Homo sapiens: one gene and its partners. The protein of the gene in region 1 purifies or fractionates together with the protein of each later gene. This does not show direct contact. Each region holds a gene or a part of one and is shown in the gene's direction. Other genes may lie near its edges.

Region 1 (7,992 bases):
GGAGTACTCAGGGGCCAGATCATGCAGGGCCTTTTCACCGTTAAGAACTTTGGATTTTAGTATTACAGGAGGACCCTTCAGGGTGTTTGACTAGGCGGGTATCATACAGTATTAAGGGTGAGGATCCTGAATAAAAAAGGGCTGTTTCCAGGACAAGGGTCAGGAAGCCAGACTTCTTCGAGGTTGCTTGTACCGGTCCTTGTCAGGCAATGTGCTCCTAGAGAATTTCCTTTGCTTTGTGTTTCATCTACCTAGACAGCAGTGTATTCCCCAGAGGACGTCACTATCTCCAGAGAACATATTCCAATTATCCTGGGAAATATGATAATTGGGATTATAACAGTACTCATTTTCTCAATTCTCAGAATGAAAACCTATCCAAGGCAAGAACAAAAGTTCTCCAGAAAGCACTCCCCTCCCAATTGTGAAAACCCAGTTAACATTTTATTAGAGCTACCAGGTTATGTGAAACTGTTGATAGTTTTATCACTTTCCTTTCAAGATATAGGCAGGGGCAGTGGCTCATGCCTGTAATTCCAGCACTTTGGGAGGCCAAGGTAGGTGGATGGCTTGAGCCCAGAAGTTCAAGACCAGCCTGGGCAACAAGGTGAAACCCTATCTCTACCAAAAATACAAAAATTAGTGGGGCATGATAGCATGGACATGTAGTCCCAGCTACTTGGGAGGCTGAGGTGGGAGGATGGCTTGAACCCTGGAGGTGGAGGTTGCAGTGATTGGAGATCGTGCCACTACATTCCAGCCTGGGCGACAGAGCAAGACTCTGTCACCAAAAAAAAAAAAAAAAAAAAAAAAAAAAAATGTGGCCAGGCATGGTAGCTCACACCTGTAATCCCAGCACTTTGGGAGGCTGAGCCAGGCGGATCACAAGGTCAAGAGATCGAAACCATCCTGGCCAACATGCAAAACACCATCTCTACTAAAATACAAAAAATGAGCTGGGTGTGGTGGTGTGCGCCTGTAGTCCCAGCTACTGGGGAGGCTGAGGCAGGGGAATCGCTTGAACCAGGGAGGCAGAGATTGCAGTGAGCCGAGATCGCGCCACTGCACTCCAGCCTGGTGACAGAGCGAGACTCCGTCTAAAAAAAAAAAAAAAAAAATATATATATATATATATATAATATATGTATATAATTTTACATGAAAGAAGGAAATAAATGGGTGCTTTTATTCAACAAATATTTATTGAGCACCTACTCTTGTGCCAGGCAGTCTTCTAGGTGCTAGGGTTGCAGCAGAAAACAAGACAGGCAGAGATCCCTGCCTTCAGAGGGAGCACAACATTTAAGATAAACATGCAAAATGCCTGATATGTTAGATGGGAAGATAAATGCCCTTAAAGAAAGTAAAGCAGGGACAGTGACATTTAGGAGTGAGGATGTTGCAACAATTTAAGATAGGTTGGTCAGGGGAGATTCATTGAAAAGTCCCATCTGAGTGAAAACCTAGAGGAGAGAATTGAAGCAGGCTGGTATCTGGGGGAGTTGTAGGCAGAGGGAATAGGAAATACAAAGGCCCTAAGGTGGGGAAACAGCAAGGAGTCAGGTGTGGGCAGAGCAGAAAGTTGGGGCTGCATGAGCAAAGGGCAGGGCCTGGCCCACATCTCGTAGAGCTTTGTAATATAACCACAACATGCAAGTGTACAATTTAACATTTTATTCCACATCCGATGGCAAAGAAAAATTGACTGCTACCAATATGGTAGTTTCTGACCTGTAGTTCCCTAAATAGAATTCTATAAGTTGTAATACACTTTACTACACATTATCAGAAAAAGACTAAAAGTTCTATTTAGTAACTCCAATTCTGACAGTTCTCATGTCTGGGCTAGAACAAGGGCATGGCAATGGCAGAACAGATGTCTTCTATTTTCTTTGCAGGATTTTCTTTTTTCAGAGGAAAGTACAGGTATGGGCCCACTCAAGTGGAGCTCCAGGTTAGGGGGTTCTGTCCTCACCCAGGCAGCACACAGGAGGGCAGAGGCCCCTCCTAAGGGTACTACAAACTTGGCTCTGATCCATGATTTCAGTTTCTGACAAACACAACATTCAGTGGGGGAAAGAAAATCAGGTATCTGAGAGCTTGCACACAGGCATTCTAGCAAAACCAAAAGCACCTACTGGCTACTTGATGTTAGTGTGAAGATTCTCATGAAATGGAGACAACCATTCTAGGGGTTGAGGTGGCCAGGGGGATGGAGCCTGAGCTGAGAGAACTAAGAAAACAAAAACAATACAACAAAAAGCTGTTCAGCCATGTGTTACCCACACTGGAGTTCTGTTTGCTCATTCTGGTGTGGAACCCAGGGCCCTGGTAAGGGAATGAGGGGACTTCAGGGCATTTGCTTGCCTCAGTGGAAGCAGGGAGGTAAGGGGTTAAGGTGGTGGTACAGCCTGCAGGGCCAGGAGTCTGAACTCCCTCCAGGAGGGGCCCGAGGGGTGTCTTTAGTGTGAGCCACACAAGGGTACAGAGCCCAGAAGAGCTCTGCTTAATATTCATATACTAAGCTTCCACAGACTAAATACACACACACACACACACACACACACACACTCACACACACTTTACTTCTCAAATCATGTACCACTTTCTACCAGATTCAAGAACACCAAGAAGTACTAAAGGGTATCCAACCGTCAAGAAAAAGTTTGACTCCCTCATTAGTTGTAACATACAAGTCTTCCCATTTCCTTACTTGTAAGATAGAGTAATGGACTGGGAAGCAGACAAGGCCCCTGAACAGCCTAGCATCTTACCTGATGCATAGGAGGTTCTTAATCATCTCCCTTCCTCTCCCTCATCCTAACGAAAAATACTAGATTGCTGTCAAATGCTATGGGTATACTTTAAATCAGTGCTTGTCAAACTTTAATGTGCAGCCCAATCAGCTGGGGGAATCCTGTTAAAATGCAGGTTCTGATTCAGTGGAGCTGGGGTGAGGGATAGGAATTATGCGTTCCTTACAGGCTTCCAGGTGATGCTACACTGCTGATTGGGGATCATTCTTTGAGTGGCAAGAATTTGACACTACTAAGTTTCATTACTTAACACAACCATCACATAAAAGCCCTCAAAAGGCACCAGTCTAAACAATAAGCCCTTCCACTTCAGCCTCATGCAGGCACTGACCCTGCCAAGTGTCCAGCACTAGAGAGGCCAGGCATAATAGACATATCCTTTGGTCTTGGGAGGATCACGACACCCTCCTACAGGAAGATCTTGCAATTGTTTCCTCACCTCTTCTGGTTTTTTGATCTTACCTTTTGCCTCTGATGATAATTACCCTTTAATTACCACCCACCACCTTGTCATCTAAATAATTATAGTAAGTGCAGCCTGCACCTCTGCCAGAAGATCTTTAAACAAAATGATAAAAACAAGTTCCTAAACTGCCAATTAAAAAAAGAGACAAAACTGACCCAAATAAAACAGTCATGTGCATCCCACCCACAGTGGAAGACATGGACTTGTTTTTCATATAAACTACAGAAGAAGTTGATTTATTTTGAAACAAGAAAAAGTACTGATTCAGTATTTAGGAAATTGTAAATGTCAGAATATAAATTCTGCAGTCAGGTAGGCAAAACAATCCAACCACACTAAAATCCACCTTAAATTCCTCTTGGGAAGAGCTGCAGGGTCTCTGAACTATTTTTCCTTTATTTGGAGTTTCCCCGATTATACCGGAGGGAGCTGGATAACTTCTGGGTGCATTAAAAGCAAATTATCCATTTGTGGGAGAAGGGCGGGCTTCTCACTGAAAGCAATTAGTAGTTTTCTAATTTCCCAGGTGGGTCTCCATTAACCGCCTAACAAACACCAAGGCTGTCGGAGTCCGACGAATCATGCACCTCTCTTAGGGGGAACTGGTTGCGCTACTCTTTAGAACGCTGTTTTCCCATGGTAGCCTTAAAAAAAACTTACCAATTTTCTGAATTAGGTAACACATTGAATGGGAAAAACCTAAGATAGCACAAAAAGGCGTACAGCGAAAAATTAAGACTCCTTCCTCCCGTCATCCGCCACCTCACTGTCCTCCCTAGAGGCAATCGCTGGTTCACTTCTTTAAACTTTTTATTATGGAAAATTTCAGATACACAAGTAAAGAGACTGTATGATGAGCACATATGCTCGCATCACGCAGCTTCAACGATGAAAAACGTTCTGCCAGCTTGTTTTATTCCTCTCCCCCAGTTTTCATAGGCGTATTTTACAGTCCTGACACCAGATCACTCTGTCAACACATCAGTAGGTCTTAAAAAAAAAAAAACAAAAAACCATAACCACATTACCGTTACCACACCCAACAAAGTTAATGATAATTGCTCAATACCATCCAATATTCTCGGGGCCACTTTCAATCGGTGAGGGGCAGACGGACTTAGAGGAAGGACTGCAGGGCTGGAGGGGCGCGAAAAAGCGAGGGGCGACGCTGCTCGTGGCCTCGGGTGTCCGGCGCCTCGCGGTCCCCGCCATCGTCACCTACGCCGGGCCAGGACCGACCAGGCCAGGTCGAGGGCGGCTCTTGACCACGCGCCCCCTGCCTCCCAGCTCCCGGGCGGCGGCCTCCGCAGGCCCGGCACAGCTGCACAGCCCGCGGTCCCCAGGCACCGGCGGGTCCCTGGAGGGGAAGCGATTGATACAGCTGCCTGCACTGCGCCACCCGCCCGGCTGCCCATCTCCGTGGCACCTGCGTCTCCCGGCTGGGCCGGGAGCTAGAAGTGGCTGCCGAGACCGGGAGGGCCCGGCCAGTCGCCCGCTCCCGCTCCCGCGCCTGGTCCTCGGCCCGCGACCTCGCGGACCTGGACTACAACTCCCGTCGGGCTCCGCGGCCGGGCCAATGGCGGGCGCCGGAGCATGCGGGGCGCAGCGCCTGCGCGGCGGTTTGAGTAAGCGGCTGCGCGATTGGCTGCGGGGTCGGGCGGCCGCGCGGGGACTGTGGGAAGCGGAGTGACGGAGCGAGCGGCTGTTGGAGGAAGGAGGTGGGGGCCGGGAGCGCAAATGGCGTTGAGATGGTTCAGGGCCCTGTTCAAACTCCAGCACTGACCATTCACCGGCGGAAGCGGCGGCGCAGGAGGCGGCGGCGGCCCAGCGGGGGCACACAGCAGGCTCTGTTACCAGCTCCAGCAGTGGCGGCCAGCGAGAGCTAGGCCTGGGCCCGGCCGGCGGCGCTCGAGGCGGGGAGGGAAGTTGCGGGGCCGCCGCTCCTGCCCCCCCAACCGGGCTTCCTATTTACCGAAAGCAGAGTCCCTCGCCTCTCTCGGCTCTCACCTGCCGGCCCTGCTCTCCCGCGCGAGGGTTCCGCGCCCGCCCGCGGGCCGTAGGGAGCGGGAGAGGCGGAGGCGGCCCGTGGCCAAAGCACCCGCCAGGCTCCGAGGGTAAGTGAGGTGTCGGGCGGCCGCCTAGGCCGGGAGGGAGCCGGGAGGGTGGGGGAGGCAGAGGCTGGGAGCGGGCGGTGGAAGTCTCACTGCCTCGCCCACCGGGCCGCTGAGGAAGTTGGGCAGGGGAATGACCTGAGGAACTCTTTTTTTCCCCTTTTATTTTCCTTTTTCGGAGTTCTTTTTCGGGCGACTGCTGATTGACTTAGCTCCCCAAACCCAGTCAAGTGTGTTGATTTCAGCCCCGAGTCCTTTCCCGTGGTTTCATCCGCCTCTGGCCGCCACTGGGGCCTTGCACTGCCTTAAGGATTCGGTGGCAGAGGCTTCCGGGGCGTCGAAAGTGACCTCCCTTTCCTGGGCGGCGCGGGTTGGGAGGAGAAAAGTTGCATTGAGTGTCTAGTCCGAGGGGTCCATCGCGCCCACTGCCCGTGGCGCCCCGGCTGTCCCCAGGTGAGGATTTCTGGTTAGTCAGGTTCGTCCCGTCCGCTTTCCATCTTTAATGGAAGCCCTTAAAGCCTTTGGGGATCGGGAAGACGCTAGATTAGGGTGGGAGTGAAGTATAAAGGCTTTTTGCTTTTTTTTTTTTTTTTTTTTTTTTAAATCACAGCGCACTTCTCTCAAAATTCGACCTGATTTTGGGCTAGGGCAAAAGCCGAACGACCGAAAAGACTTAGTCGTCAATCATTCTTTCCTTTTTAGTTAGGACAGTCTTTGGAGTTTAAAGGTTGAGCAAGATTGTGTACTTGAAACACTTAAAATTTAACTTCAAGGACGTCTGCACACTTATTTTGGAATCTGTAGTGCTTTACGCTTAGATAATGCCATTGCAAAGACATTTTATTGTGGGAAACGATAAAGGCAATCAGGAGGAGATATTATATAATGAACTTCTCTGTACCCATCGCTTGGATTTAGCAGTGACTATTAAACAAATTTATTTCATCTATACACTTCTCATTCCTTAATGTTGGAAAATCGCTGACGTTATTTCATCAGTATTTCACTATGTATTTGTAAAAGACGTGGTCTTTTGGCACAAAATTATTATTATCATTATTATTATTATTTTGAGACGGAGTTTCGCCCTTGTTGCCCAGGCTGGAGTGCAGTGGCGCGATCTCAGCTCACCGCAACCTCCGCCTCCCAGGTTCAATTGATTCTCCTGCCCCAGCCTCCGGAGTAGCTGGGATTACAGGCATGCGCCACCACGCCCGGCTAATTTTCTATTTTTAGTAGAAACGTGGTTTCTCCATGTTGGTCAGGCTGGTCTCGAACTCCTGGCCTCAGGTGATCTGCCCGTCTTGGCTTCCCAGAGTGCTGGAATTACAGGCGTGACCTGCCGCCCCCAGCCAGCACAAAATTATTTTTTATCACATAAAATAATTAAGTCCTTAGTGTCAGGTATTCATCTGAAGACTTCAAACTTTCAACAGTGAATGCTTTGTGGTTATAGAACCATTTTAACAGTTTTTCTGATGTTGGCATAAAGGAACTCAAGTCTAGATTTTTGGTTTGGCCTTTGGTTAGTATTTTTAGATGATTAGCACATAAGTGAATCCAAAACATTCCATCTTTGTTGGTGTGTATGTGTACGTACACTTACAGACCTGCAGGATCTCAGCTTTACATTCTTGAAGGAACAGAGAATCGATTTTTATTTTGTTGTCCGTGGTAGTTGCCCAGTATCCTGTTTTGTTTAGGCTGTACTTAACAAGAAAGACAGTAAGACTTGTTAGTGTTAGAGCTGCAGTGGAAGATGAAATACATCTCCTTCAGGAACACTGTTTTCTCTTAACGCAGATATGTATGATGACTAAATTATTACCTTGTCAAATTAAAATTGGGTTCTCACCAAACATGGGGGGGGGTCTACTACTGAATTTATATAAAACTCAGACAGTGACTCATTATAAATGGTAAGAATTTAAGTTAATCAAGGGAAAACAAGTGTAGATCAAAACATATTCAAAAGTATAGGTCAAATATAATTTCAATTCTTGTAGCTTTCAAAGTAATGATTTTTCATTCCTTAGGCCCTTGTTCACTTTTTAAAGTTATATTCGATGTATTCATGTTTGAACTGTAGAAAGGTCAAAGTGTTAGACAAACGGTTACTGATTGATCATGTTTAAAAAGTACTATAACTTTTTAATAGGCACAGAACTAATGCAAGTAACTTGTTTTAAAAAATGTTTGACTCTTGATTTACTGCCCTAAAGATTTTTTTTTTTGTCCTGTGAAGTAGATAAATCAGGTGAATCGATTTGCCATTTATAAATTGAAAAGGAAAATAAAAGTTGTATGTTTCTATGTCTGTATTAATCCATGAAACAGTGTAATATGCTGGAGCTCACTAGCCCCAGAAAATATAACTCAGCAAATGAGCACAGCACTATCGGGACAAGGCAGATAGGATAAGGATAGTTTCTTTCCCTAGGGAGATGACCATCTAAGGAACATTTTTAAAGTCACAGCGCAAATTACATTACACCAAGAAGCAGAATCTTCAAGATTGGGTTAAAAGCTGCAGGTTGTAAAACATGAGAAAAAGCACCATTTTGGGGACCTTTTTTCTCATGTGAATTAGTGCCATGAA
Region 2 (7,061 bases), on another chromosome or scaffold:
CTTAAAAGTCAAGGAAAAACTGAAGAACTGTTTCCAACTGAGGGAGCCTGAAATATCAGGACACTAAATTGAAACAAGTAGTTGCCAGGTAGATCTTTGTACCGCAAATATGTTATTGGGACAATTGGCAAGACCTAAATGGGGTCTGAGGATTAGATGGTAATAAGATATCAGTGTTAATTTCTGGATTTTGATGATTGTGTTTTGGTTATGAAGGAGAATGTCCTTGTTTGTTAAAAAACATAAACCAGTTTTGGGAGACAACGGGACAAGAAGTTAACAACTTACTCACAAATGGTTGAGGAAACAAAATTACTTGTTCTATACATTTAACATTCTTGTAACTTTGAAATTCTTTTCCATTTTTTTCTTTTTTTTTGAGACGGAGTCTTGCTCTGTTGCCTAAGCTGGAGTGCAGTGGCCTGATCTCTGCTCACTGCAAGCTCCGCCTCTCAGGTTCATGCCATTCTCCTGTCTCAGCCTCCTGAGTAACTGGGACTACAGGAGCCCACCACCACGCCTGGCTAATTTTTTGTATTTTTTGTAGAGATGGGGTTTCACTGTGTTAGCCAGGATGGTCTCAATCTCCTGACCTCGTGATCCGCCTGCCTCAGCCTCCCAAAGTGCTGGGATTACAGGTATGAGCCACCGCGCCTGGCTCAGTTTTTTTAAATTAAATAATTCAATACTGTAATGACATTCCGTTGTTTAAACACTTCTGTGGCTTCCCATTGCTCATAGGAAAAGGCCCAAACTCCTTAAAATAAACTACATCTTGTCCCTGTCTGCTTTTACATTCCCATTTTGTTGACTCTCTCCTTTTGGCTTGCTACATTCTGGTGATCTTTTTGTTCCTTTAACACCCATGCTCTTTTGAAGTACAAGAACTATGCACTTGCTGTTCAATCTGACTATAATATTGCCTAATTTTTTGCCCATATATGTTAAATTTCTTCCTTTTTATTTTTATTTTTGGTGAAACCTTTGGCAAATCTTTGCCCCTAGAGTAGCTCACAACATCACAACACTATGTATTCTTCCTTCATAATTACAGATTTGTTTGAATAATTGATGTGTCCTCTATTATCCTACTTACTGAGGGCAGAGCTATGTCCTTGCTCACCACAGTAACCCTAATGACCTAGCCCAGAGAACAGTAGACTACTTTAATTAATAAATTAAATGTGCACTTTGGGAGGCTGAGGTGGGCAGATCACCTGAGGTCAGGAGTTCGAGACCAGCCTGACCAATATGATGAAACCTCGTCTCTACTAAAAATACAAAAATTATTTAGGTGTGGTGGCATGTGCCTGTAATCCCCACTACTTGGGAGGCTGAGACAGGAGAATTGCTTGAACCTGGGAAGCAGAGATTGCAATGAGCCAAGATCGCACCATTGCACTCCAGCCTGGACAATAAGAACAAAACTCCATCTCAAAAAATACTAAATAAATAAATAAATGAACTGTGTAAGATTATCAATCCATCTGTGCTCTTGACTCCATCCCTCTCATATCTGTGGCCTCTTTCTTTTTTGGCTTCTACTCAGCTTATGAACTTGCTCAAGCCTTTCCAAGCCTAAAGCATTTCCTCTTTGGAATCCACATCCTCTTCTAGTTACATGAGTTTCCTTCCTCTTTTCACCCAAACTCTGAACAGAGTATATGTACTTGCTATTTCCATTTCCTCAGCTCCTAGCCAATCTTTAGTCTACTACAATCTAACTTCCAGCCTTACCATCCACCAAAATTGTGCTTACTAAGGTCCCTATAACCTCCTAATTGCCAGACCTAATTAACAAGTTGCAGTCAGTATCTTATCTGACTCACTCTAACTTCCTTGATGTTTAGTTCCTTTTGCCCATCTCTGATCATCTCTTTTTTACATCCTGTATGGGTTCTTCTTCTTCAGCCTATTTCTCAAATTAATGTTTATTCATTCAAAAAATATTTATGTAGTACCTACCATATAGTAAGAACAGCTGGAGCCATAACAGTAAATAAAATGAACAAAAATCCACCTTCATGAAGCTTAGATTCTTTTTCCGTGTGTGCTTTCATTCTTGATGTTAGAATTCCCCAAGGTTTTAATCCTTGGTCCACAACTTTACTTATTCTGCACACTTTCTTTGGGTGATCTGATGATTTTTCTCCTATTTTTTCTCCAATCTAGACATTACCCATGAGTTTTATGCAGGGTATATTCACTAAGATATGATCTAGGAACCTTGAACTAGATATGTCCAAGTCAGAACCCTTTATCTTTTCCCTAAACAGATCTTCATTCAGTGGGTAGTATTCAGCCATAAGAAGTCAGAAGTTAAACTTAAATCTTTCCTTTATCTCCCATATCCAACCAATCACCATCTCTTACTTTTTTTTTTCCCCCAAGACAGAGTCTTGCTCTGTACCCAGGCTGGTGTGCAGTGGTGTGATCTTGGCTCACTGCAACCTCTGTCTCCCGGGTTCAAGCGATTCTCTTGACTCCCGAGTAGCTGGGATTATAGGGGTGTGCCACCATGCCCGGCTTATTTTTGTATTTTTAGTAGAGATGGGATTTCACCACGTTGGCCAGGCTGGTCTCGACCTCTTGACCTCAAGTGATCCACCCGCCTCAGCCCCTCAAAGTTCTGCGATTACAAGCGTGAGCCACCACACCCGGCCCACCACCTCTTAAAGCATTTACCCTATTTGTCTAACATTCTCCTGTTCTTTCTCCAGTTTTGTATGCTTTGCATCCTCTCTCCAATAGCTGCCAGGATGATCTAAAATACAATCTCAGTCTCTTTTTTAAAAGCTTCCTCATCACCTAAGAGATAGAAATCTATGTCTTCATCTTGGTATAAAAACCTGTCTGTGATCTGGTCCCTGCTTCATCTTCCAGTTTTCTGTTTGTTTTTCAATTTACTTTAAGATTTTGTTACAGTGTGTAACAAAATGGTTACACACTGTGTCATAATGCTTAACATCATAGTCTCTGAAGCCAGGTTGCTTAGATGTGAATCCTAGCTCTCAAATATTTGCCTCAGTTTCCTCAAATGGGAAATAGATATAGGAGCCACTATCTTGTAAGATTATTTGGAGGACTAAATGAGTTACTACATGTGTGCTTAGACCAGTTCCTGAGACATATTAACTACTATTACATCAGGCTGCTTCTAATGTTTGCCTTTGTTCATTCTACTTCCTCTTCTTTCCTACCAAGTATTAGCTTAGCCATAGATCCTGTGTAGTTTTCCAAGTTTTTAGAAGCTGACACTTGATTTACTCCCCGAAACTGTTACCAATCACAACTTATTTCATGTTAGGGTTGATGTTATAAGCAGGTATCCTCTAGGCTCGGTTTTCTCTTTTAAATATAGAAAATGTAGTAAATATAACCACTTCAATTGTTATATTGCTGTGGGACAAAATGCAGTTCCTGTACCATAGCAGTAGGAGATCAAGGTAAGAGAGAACAACGATAACTCCCCAGTTTCTAGCTTGTATGACTCAGAATCCAGAAAATATTGTAGAAGTCTCAAATGCTTGTTGATACACACGCTTACACAAAATTGTAAATGTTTTAATTTCCTTCAAGTTTCCTACTGCCTCTTCAGTCCGCTAGCCTGATACTGCAATCAGTGTCGCTTCAGGCAACTTCTCCTTTCTCCGCCAAATTTCGCCTTTCGGTCTCACCCACCCATCACCCAGACAAATCCTCCAAAGCTCCGTCTTCCCTTTAAAAGACTCTCAGGGAACTCAACCCCAAAACCCACCCTCTGGGTTTCCCCGTCACCCTGGCAACGGAAGCAGGAAGAGGCGGGCTTCGCCATCCACCCTCCCCGCCCGCGGCAGGCGCCGGCCGCATTGGTGAGGGGGCGCGGGCTGCTTGGCCAGGGCAGTTCCCTCAGCTCCGGGTTGGAGCCGGAGCCGGAGCCGGATCCCGCGCACACCGCCACGTCAACCTAAACCTACACCGCCCTCTCCACCCCACCGCCGCAGCGCCCGCTGGGCCCGCAGCGGGTCTCCCCAGGCAGCGTCCTCCACGCCTTTCCCACAATGCTCCGCGCCAGGCCCCGCCCCGGCTCGCCGTGGAGACCGGCGCGTGAGGAACCTACCGGTACCGGCCGCGCGCTGGTAGTCGCCGGTGTGGCTGCACCTCACCAATCCCGTGCGCCGCGGCTGGGCCGTCGGAGAGTGCGTGTGCTTCTCTCCTGCACGCGGTGCTTGGGCTCGGCCAGGCGGGGTCCGCCGCCAGGGTTTGAGGATGGGGGAGTAGCTACAGGAAGCGACCCCGCGATGGCAAGGTGGGCATGGGCCCGGGGCTAGGGCTTTGCTGGAGCCGGTGGTGGCCTGGGCCCTCCGGTCAGGGAGGGGCGGAATGGCTGAGCGCCTGAACCTCCCTTCCTGTGCGCTCTTAAGACCTGGATATTGTGTTCTCGCTCCCCACCTTCCTCCTCCCTGTTATTCACACCACCCTTCCTCTGCCCAGCGATTCCCTCTCAGTTACTTACACTTTCTCCCTAAGTCCGACCTGAGACTTCAGACACCAGCAACACTTAACAGCCCTGTTCCCCCGTGTCTTCATCTTTACCCCTCTCCCCTCTCCCACTCTGCAGTGATGGCAATGCGAAAGCTTGCGCCTTGCATTTACCTGGCGCTTCCACCTGCCCGGTAGCTCGGGCCACGGGCAGTTCGGCCACACCCACGCTGAGAACAACCCCTGGGCGAGAAACATCTTATCCCAAAGTGTTGATTGAGACTATGCCCTCTCTTTTTCTGATGGTTGTTTTCTTGTTTGGATACTTGTTAATCTCTACATCATTATATTTTTCAAAGGTATATTTTTGTGGAATGAAAAGGAAGTATTAGAAATGAGCTGAAGACCATTCACAGGTAAAGAGAAAAATTTTTAAATATACATTTAGGATTAAATGAAAAACAGAAATGAGGTGCGAGGAGCGTTAGATTTTTCAAAGCATTACGATCTCTTTGGAACTAAAATATAGTGGTTGAAATGTGATATGATGAAGTAATGATTGTTTTTGCCCTGCAGAGAGTATGTCTAAATAACCGATTCCCTTCTCTTTTTGTGTTTTGTTTCTACTTACACCAAACATGAACTTTGCAATAAAATTACACTGGTAACTTACAATTGTTTTTCTACTATTTTTAAAAAATGGCCTCTACTTAAATTCAGTATAAGCACCTTCTGAGGAAACTCCGGGAAGAAGATCGACTGCTGTGTAGATTGTCTATTATAACAATATATTTCACTGTCATTTCTGGTAGGGTTATATGAGAAGTAAAAAACCCTATGTTTCCTTCTAGTCCCTCCCAAGGACATTTCCTACAAGTGAATTCTGCTGAAAATGAAAATTAGACAGCTTTAGGAGGTAAAGAAGTAGCTAAAAGGAAGAGGTATTACAGGCAACGCTATAACTGGGTAGAAAGAGGAAGCACCTGTAGCTCATTGCCACCTTTGTGTTCTGATGCTCGTCAGAGGTCTTTTCTCAGTGTATAAATTGCTGAGGGTGTGTGTGCAAGCTACTTACTACCACTCATGACCTTTTTTCTGCTATCTTCAGTGATTTCACAAATCTAGCTACATGGATGTAGAAAGAGTGAAAAATAGAACCTGGGGCATTCACACTGATTTGCCATTTAATGGAGATTGTATTGCTGACCATGTTCTGTGATAAATAAATTGTGCTATTATTGTTTAGTTCAAAATGTATTTTAACTGCCTGCTTTTCTTTCTTAGATTAATATTTTTGGGGACAGATTTGTGATGCTTGATTCACCCTTGAAGTAATGTAGACAGAAGTTCTCAAATTTGCATATTACATCAACTGGAACCAGCAGTGAATCTTAATGTTCACTTAAATCAGAACTTGCATAAGAAAGAGAATGGGAGTCTGGTTAAATAAAGATGACTATATCAGAGACTTGAAAAGGATCATTCTCTGTTTTCTGATAGTGTATATGGCCATTTTAGTGGGCACAGATCAGGATTTTTACAGTTTACTTGGAGTGTCCAAAACTGCAAGCAGTAGAGAAATAAGACAAGCTTTCAAGAAATTGGCATTGAAGTTACATCCTGATAAAAACCCGGTAGGTAAACGTTTGTTTTTAAAAATATTTGATTATATTTTTGGTACATTTTGATATTTATTTAAATTGCTTTAAATGATCAAATGCTTAAGAATAATCATATGTCAAAATTATAATTCAACTTGTATGCTAGAAACAAAAGCACCAAAATGTTCTGGATTATTTAGGATCCCGTGAAGGAATGTCAGTACCAAAAATTCAGTTCCCTCTTAATTTGTAGACGATTTTCCAACAATTCTATTAAAGACATTAACCCCAAAACAAACGATAATATCCGTGAAGTAGTTGAAGTAGTTTTCTTATTAAAGTAGGTTAAGATCAAGTGTTTTAGAACAGGAACAAAAATATTTTTTTAAAACTCAGAGGGTATGACTTGCTAAAAATAGAAGTAATAGCTAATAATAGCATGTTTTAACTTTGACTGTTTTCTTCTGTGTATGCACAAGTCCACAAACCAGAGTTAGAAAGTTTTATAAATTAATACTTCACAGCAGCTGAATATAATGCCAGTCATAAATATTTATGTACACATTAATGTAAATCTTTCAAAACTAAACTCATTTTAATTTTTATGGTGTTTTTGTAATTTATTTGATTATTTCTTAGTGAGATTTAGCGTTCATCATTAACAAGAAGACATAGTTATAATTTTCTCTTTTCTAGGTAGAAGTTTTAAAATAGGATTATTTTCATTGCATAAAGCTGAGCAAGAGAAACAATATTTCTTTAAATATTGTTTAGTTGATTATCTTTTCCTAAGATCCACATTCTATTTAAGGTTTTTATTTTTTTTTAATTTTTCTTTAAAATTTCAAATAATGATTTTTAAGTTTCCATATAAAAGACAGTAGACCTTCTACCATCCGAGTATTATTTAAATGAAAGCATCCTTCAGAAACAAATTTTATGAAGCACAGTAACAAGGAAGAAACATTTCCGATCCAATTTTGGATTGTTTTCTTTTTT
Region 3 (7,141 bases), on another chromosome or scaffold:
CAGGCTGGTCTTTAACTCCTGACCTTGTGTGATCTGCTCACCTCAGCCTCCTAAAGTGCTGGGATTACAGGTGTAAGCCACTGCACCCGGACTCCAAATATTCTTTAGGCCTCTTTTAGCTCCATGTTGCCTGTCTCAAGAACCAGGTCACATGGCCCAGAGCTGACTGGAGAAGGGTCAGCCGTCTCCCCTAGTCTCTTCCCCTGCACTGACCTATCCCTCTTCCCAAGCTCTTCCCAGGCCTGTAGGGGTGGGTGCCTTCTCTCCCTCTCTTTCCTTTCCTGCCCTAGGGGCCTACTTGAATCAGGGGAAGGGCTATCATGGGCACTGTTACACATTCCTCTCCAGGTGTAAGAGTGAGGTGGCCCTGATCCTGAGCAACAGTCCCTACTACCCACTCACCCCCATGACTCGGTTCCGCACATTGAAGAATCGGTTTTGTCGCTCTTTTTCTCGATTTCTTCTAGCCTCGATGGCTGCTGCTTCCTTGGTATCTGTTGACTGTTTTATGTTATACATCTGGAGCAAAAGGGAGGTGGAATGGCCCATCAGTGCCGACCACCGTCTTTGACTACACGCCACCCCCATTCCTTTCTCCCTATAATATTTCAGCAGTTATTGATTCCTACTGATTTTACTTCCTGATATATTTCGTATCTGTGCCCTCCATCTCTGCTGTCACCAGCTTAATTCAGGCCTCACAATCTGGTGTCAGGCAGTATCTCAGGAGCCCCACTGGGTTCTCTTGCTCCAACGTTACCCTCTCTGCACTGGATTTCTCTGCACTGGCTACCAGAGTGATCTTTGGGAAGCAAATCTGACCATGGCACTCCTCAGCGTAAAGCCTTTGAAAGCACCTTTAAAGCAATGGCTCCCCAGTGCTTATAAGGCCCAACCCCCTTTGCCAGATTTATAAGGTTCTTCATGATCTGACCCCTGCTCACCTTTCTAAGCCTCAAACACATCTACAACACTCCTTTTTCATTATACTCTATTCAGTTTTCCTTATTTCAGTAAGTGGCACCACCATTCACCAAGTTGCTCCGGTCAAAAACCTAGGAGACATCCTTTAATCCTTCCTTTCCCTCACTCCTTCTTCTTTCAAAATAACCCTTATCCAAGCCACCATTGCCAGCTTCCTGAATAACCACAACTGTCTCCATGTTGGTATTCCAGCTTCCTCTATTGACTCCTATAGCCCAATCACAGAAACCAGAAGCAGCTTTCTTTTCTGAAATATATGTCCCCCCACCCTTTTTTTTTTTTTTTTTTTTTTTTTTACTTTTATTACTTATTTTCTGGTCAAATGAAAGGCTAGAAAGCTAAATTTGCCTGTGTTCCTTCATATTTTGGGAAGCTCACTTTTGGCATGTAACCCAGCCAAAGCTGCAGCCAAAAAAACTTTAGCAAACATAAATCTGATCATGTCTCTCACCTGCTTAAATCCTCCACTAGCTTCCCACTATACTTAGAATCAGATCCAAACTCCTTACTGTGGGCTTTCAAGATCTAGTTCCTGCACACCTCTCCAATTTGTCTCAAACCACTGTCTCCCTTGCTTACAGTGCTCCAGGCAAGCTGATCAAGTCCTCCAACACAGTAATTGTTCCCACCCCGGGGCCTTTGTATGTGCTGTTCCTTTGTTTGGAGCGTGATTCTTTAATTCCTCCTATAGCTATTTGGATCTTTTTGGTGTTTTGTTTTGTTTTCCATTTTGTAACTGTGAAGTAGTTGAACATATATGCCCGGCTGATTTTTGTATTTTTAGTAGAGATGGGGTTTCACAGTGTTAGCCAGGATAGTCTCAATCTCCTGACCTTATGATCCACCCTCCTTGGCCTCCCAAAGTGCTGGGATTACAGGCATGAGCCACCACACCTGGCCCCATTTAATTTTTTTTAATATAGATGGGGTCTCACTATATTGCCCAAGCTAGTCTTGAACTCAAGCAATTCTCCTGCCTCGGCCTCCCAAAGTGCTGGTATTACAGGCATGAGCCATTGTGCCCGGCGTCACTTAGGTTTTTAATCCACTTGGAGTTGCATTTTGTGTATGGTGTGAGATAAGGATCCAATTTAATTTTCCCCCCAAGTGCCATCTCATCTTTTTTAAATTTAAAATTTTATTTTATTTTTGGCCGGGCGCGGTGGCTCACGCCTGTAATCCCAGCACTTTGGGAGGCCGAGGCAGGTGGATCAGGAGGTCAGGAGTTCAAGACCAGCCTGGCCAACATAGTGAAACCCTGTCTTTACTAAAAATACAAAAAAATTAGCCAGGCGTGGCAGTGGGCACCTGTAATCCTAGCTACTTGGAAGGCTGAGGCAGAGAATAAAATTTATTTTATTTTTAATTTGTTTTAGATGGGGTCTCTCTCTGTTGCCCAGGATGGAGTGTAGTGGTGCAATCATGGCTCACTGCAGCCTCAAACTCCTGGGCTCAAAGGATCTTCCTGCCCCAGCCTCCTGAGTAGCTGGGACTACAGGTGTGTGCCACCATGCCTGCCTAATTTTTAAAATTTTTTTGTAGAGATTGGGTTTTGCTATGTTACCCAGGCTCACCATCTCATCTTTTAAAAGGGAACAGTATTTCCCCATGGATTACATGAGATTGCTGTCTTTTAGCCATTTTATCCCCTCAGCCTGATTGTTTCTCCCAGCTGAACTTCATTTATGGCTCCCCTACTAGATTCCATCTACCAAGCTTCCTCCCTTTATTTATTTTTGAGACAGGGTATTGCTCTGTCACCTAGGCTGGAGTGAAGTGGTGCGGACACCACTCACTACAGCCTCAACCTCCCAGGCTCAAGTGATCCTCCTGCTTCGGCATCCTGGGTAGACCAGAGGTGAGAGCTGCCACACCCAGCTAATTTTTTAATTTTTAGTAGAGATAGGGTCTCACTATGTTGCCCAGGCTGGTCTTGAACTGCTGGTCTCAAGTGATCCTCCTGCCTTGGCCTGCCTCCCTCACGATGGGATTACAGTTGTCAGCCACCATGCCCAGCCACTTCCTCACTTTCCTGGACTTGTCCTAAGTCTTTAGGACTCTTTCTAGCCTTCGGACATAATTTAATAAATAGTTAAAGGAATAATTATGGCAACCACCAGATCCTTTCCATGTTTAAGTCTGAGAATGGCACCAACTTACCTACTGGTTTCACCTGCCATTACAGTATAAGGTCACTGAAGGGGAAGATTCAGCTGACATTTTAAGCTTCTTGGATTGCTAAGGCCCCTGCCTTATTAATGATAGAGAGCAGAGAGGGAAGAGAGGTAAGGTGGCATTGTGGTATAGAGCTGTGGGAATGGGATGGGGGAGAGGCATGGAGGCAGAGGTAGGTGGAGGTGGAGAGCGCTGGCTTAGGGACCCTGACTCCTGGGGGTTCACACAAAATACCTTTCTCAGTAAGGAATCCCGATTTTGAAGCTCTTAGGTTGGCTCTGCATGCAACTTTGTTCTTGGGTTACGGCGGCAGTTTCTGAACTCTGCTTGGTACAACAGGAGGGAGGCAGGGGATAGGGGTAGTATCTCAGGCCGTAGCCTTCCCCAGCCTGTATCCCTGTTGCCTGGGAGTAGCCCCAGTCCCATTCACAACCCGTCCGCCTTCGCAACCCGTCCCGCCACCAATCCCACCCCACCATTAGCAAAGTCTGAGCTCACCTAACACTGAATCCTCCCGTTGGCCCCTCCTTCCCGTCCAGCTCTCCGCTCCCCCCGGGTCCTTCCAATTCCCGACCCTGTCCTTGTCCTAGCCTTGAAAGCTGGCCAGGCTAAAGCCACAGCCGAGCTCCCACCTTCCTCTTGCCCTGAGGGGCATAATCCTGCTGTGACTTCTGTCTCAGCAAGCGTGAGCTCAGGTCTCCCCCGCCTCCTTGAACCTCAAGAACTGCTCTGACTCCGCCCAGCAACAACTCCTCCGGGGATCTGGTCCGCAGGAGCAAGTGTTTGTTGTTGCCATGCAACAAGAAAGGGGGGCGGAGGCACCACGCCAGTCGTCAGCTCGCTCCTCGTATACGCAACATCAGTCCCCGCCCCTGGTCCCACTCCTGCCGGAAGGCGAAAATCCCGTTAGGCCTGGACGTATTCTCGCGACATTTGCCGGTCGCCCGGCTTGCACTGCGGCGTTTCCCGCGCGGGCTACCTCAGTTCTCGGGCGTACGGCGCGGCCTGTCCTACTGCCGCCGGCGCCGCGGCCGTCATGGGGTTCCTGAAACTGATTGAGATTGAGAACTTTAAGTCGTACAAGGGTCGACAGATTATCGGACCATTTCAGAGGTTCACCGCCATCATTGGACCCAATGGCTCTGGTGAGATAAACCTGGCCGCGGCCCTGCGCACGTCCCGGCCTGGACCCCTTATCCGGTGCCGGAGTAGTACAACCCAGCCCATGTAACCTGAAACGTCGCGGACCCTTACGGGTTCCTTGCCCGTCCAGAGGGGGTTCTGCTCGAACCCACTCTCCCCGCGCGGGTGCTCTAACTCGAACCCCTTCCAGGTGTCACTTGCCGCTTCCTGCGCGGCCCCCGCCCCGGCCCAGTGGTACAGGCCGAGCTGCCAGTTACCCCGCCTACTTCCCCCTCCCGCCAAAGGAGTCGCGTCTGGAACCAGCTTCCCGCCAGCTCAGTCCTCCGCCGCGCGGCTCCCCGCCGGACCGGCCGGAGCCGGCTTCCCAGCCTTACTTGACCCCCTCCGGAGAATGTGGGGACGCTGGTAGCTCTCCCGTGGCCTTCGGTCCCAAACGGTGCACTTCTGTTTCAGCCCAGCGTCCTCTCTCGCCTCGCATTGGTACACTCCAACTCCTTTCTACTCTTCTCTGGAGGCGGCACTTTTGAATTTCAGACCCAGCGCTCCAGTCTTTAGAATGCTTGAGGTGTCGATCCCCACCCCCCACCGCTATGTCAGAGGTAGTTGCCTCGAACTCGCCCTTTTCCTACCACCGAAACCGTCAAAAGCCGAAATTAACTAATTTACCAAATTTGTTGAATGCTTATTGTTTATCAGGAGTTATTCAGTTGCAAGTTGTGGAAACAGCGGAGAATAGAATAAACCAACTCCATGCTCACAGGGAACTTATATTCCAGAGGGGAAAGAAGATAAGGAGAAAATAAGATGGTTTTAGGCTGTCATAAGTGCTATACAGGAAATGAGACAGGTGGATGTGATAAAGTGACTTAGGTGGTGTCTTTAGAAAGGGTGGTCAGGTAAAGCCTCTATTTTGTGTCTTCCCAACTCTAAACGATACACCGTGGATTCCTCTCACCTCAGATGTCCATTTGGAATCCTGCTGTATTCTTCCACCCCAGAGATGTTCTAGCTGAATGATATCCTAGCCTAAGAGGCTGCCCTTGCTGAAGTAGCACATACTGAGTACCTTTCCTGGAGACTGAGTGTCTCAACAGTGGCACTATTGACATTTCCAGCGAGATAATCCTTTGCTGTGGGATGTGCTCTGTGCATTGTAGGATGTTTAACAGCATCTCTGGCATCTACCTGCTAGATAACAGTAGCACCCCTGCTCCCCAGGCATGACAATCAAAACTGTCTCTAGACATTGCTAGATGTCACAGAGGGTGTGTGTGATTCCCCCAACCCCCCAACTTGTTTGAGAACCACTGGCCTGGAGGGCTAATGCTTGGTGTCCACCCAGTTTCCTCGGGTTTTAGTGTAGTGGCCCCTGTTGGAAGAGCTAGGATGTACCTCTTGGCATTCAGTCCCCTCAGCATTAGTAGATTTGTATTCCCAGCTGTTCTGAAAAGGGCTATGGCACTCCCCCACTTGCCCCCGTTCTTCAAGGCCCACCTCTACAAGCCATTCCTTTAGTCCCTTTGGTGAGTGAGTCTTCCTCTGTGGCATACCGTAGACACTTGGTACACGTTAATGTTTATTAAGTCCTATATTGATGGTGCATGTTTTTGTATCTTCATTGGCCTGTGAGTACCCTAAAGCAGACATTCCTTGAAACGTTTTACTGGTGTTCAGTCCATAATATATATTACAAAAATGTTTACCATATTGATTGTGATTAGAGAGGCTTGGGGTTGTGAGATGATGTTGTCCTCCCTGGAAATGATGGGAGAAGCCCAAAGGTTGGATATTGGTTCCTAAAAGGCTGACTCCTGGTCTGCATGATGTGCTAGTCCTGCTGTGATGAGGGAGACAGCTGAGTCCAGACTTAGGATAGGACTAATTAATTGAGTACCTACTCTGTGTGTCAAGTACTTTATTTATTGGGACCCTGTTTTTTCTTTTTCTTTTTCTTTTCTTTTTTTTTTTTTTTGAGACAGTCTTGCTCTGTTGTCCAGGCTGGAGTGCAGTGGCATGATGTTGGCTCACTGCAACCTCTGCCTCTTGGGTTCAAGTGATTCTCGTGCCTCAGCCTCCCAAGTAGCTGGGACTACAGGCGTGCGCCACCCCATCTGGCTAGTTCTTGTATTTTTAGTAGAGTTGGTGTTTCTCCCAGTTGGCCAGGCTGGTCTCAAACTCCTGGGCTCAAGTGATCTGCCTGCCTCAGCCTCCCAAAGTGCTGGGATTACAGGCATGAGCCACTGCACCCAGCCAAGGGACCCTTTACAATTAAATTCTCAAAATGACCCTAGGAGGAAAATGCCAATAGCTTCGTTTTATACATGAGGAGACTAAGGCACAGAGGTGTGATAACTTGTCCGTGGTTCTCAGAACCCATGCCTGTGCTCCTGCCACTCCAATAGAGAAGTATGTGCCGCACATATTTTTAGACCCGTGAATTGTGGTTTTTTTCATCTTTTTCCAGGTGAGGGAATGGAAGGTCAGCTAAGTGGTAGTGAAAGTAAGATTAGAACCTGGTCTGTTGGTTCTAAGCCCAAGTTTGCAAGCTTTTTTAGATGGAGTCTCACTCTGACGCCCACACTGGAGTGCAGTGGCATGACCTCGGCTCACTGCAACTTCTGCCTGCTGGGTTCAAGTGATTCTTTTCTTTTTTTTCTTTTTTTTTTTTTTGAGATGAAGTCTTTCTCTGTCGCCCAGGCTGGAGTGCAGTGGCGTGATCTCAGCTCACTGCAACCTCTGCCTCCCGGGTTCAAGCTATTCTCCTGCCTCAGCCTCCTGAGGAGCTGGGATTACAGGCGTGCACCACTATGCCCGGCCAGTTTTTGTATTTTTAGTAGAG

The links.
Region 2: the proteins of WAPL (region 1) and DNAJC10 purify together in Homo sapiens (affinity purification with mass spectrometry; 3 studies listed by BioGRID and IntAct, with this or other methods). This does not show direct contact.
Region 3: the proteins of WAPL (region 1) and SMC1A purify together in Homo sapiens (affinity purification with mass spectrometry; 7 studies listed by BioGRID and IntAct, with this or other methods). This does not show direct contact.

What each region holds. Positions count from the first base shown.
Region 1 is NC_000010.11:86,518,769-86,526,760, reverse strand, and holds the start of WAPL (wings apart-like protein homolog), read left to right. Parts: upstream 1-4,968; 5' UTR 4,969-5,396; intron 5,397-7,992. UniProt on the Homo sapiens protein: Regulator of sister chromatid cohesion in mitosis which negatively regulates cohesin association with chromatin. Involved in both sister chromatid cohesion during interphase and sister-chromatid resolution during early stages of mitosis.
Region 2 is NC_000002.12:182,712,196-182,719,256, forward strand, and holds the start of DNAJC10 (dnaJ homolog subfamily C member 10 isoform 1 precursor), read left to right. Parts: upstream 1-4,061; 5' UTR 4,062-4,288; intron 4,289-4,495; coding exon of another isoform or gene 4,496-4,569; exon of another isoform or gene 4,570-4,602; intron 4,603-4,820; 5' UTR 4,821-4,877; intron 4,878-5,745; 5' UTR 5,746-5,891; coding exon 5,892-6,095; intron 6,096-7,061. UniProt on the Homo sapiens protein: Endoplasmic reticulum disulfide reductase involved both in the correct folding of proteins and degradation of misfolded proteins.
Region 3 is NC_000023.11:53,419,655-53,426,795, reverse strand, and holds the start of SMC1A (structural maintenance of chromosomes protein 1A), read left to right. Parts: upstream 1-4,141; 5' UTR 4,142-4,195; coding exon 4,196-4,304; intron 4,305-4,755; exon of another isoform or gene 4,756-4,858; coding exon of another isoform or gene 4,859-4,901; intron 4,902-7,141. Other genes in the region: RIBC1 (RIB43A-like with coiled-coils protein 1), read right to left, coding at 403-519. UniProt on the Homo sapiens protein: Involved in chromosome cohesion during cell cycle and in DNA repair. Central component of cohesin complex. The cohesin complex is required for the cohesion of sister chromatids after DNA replication.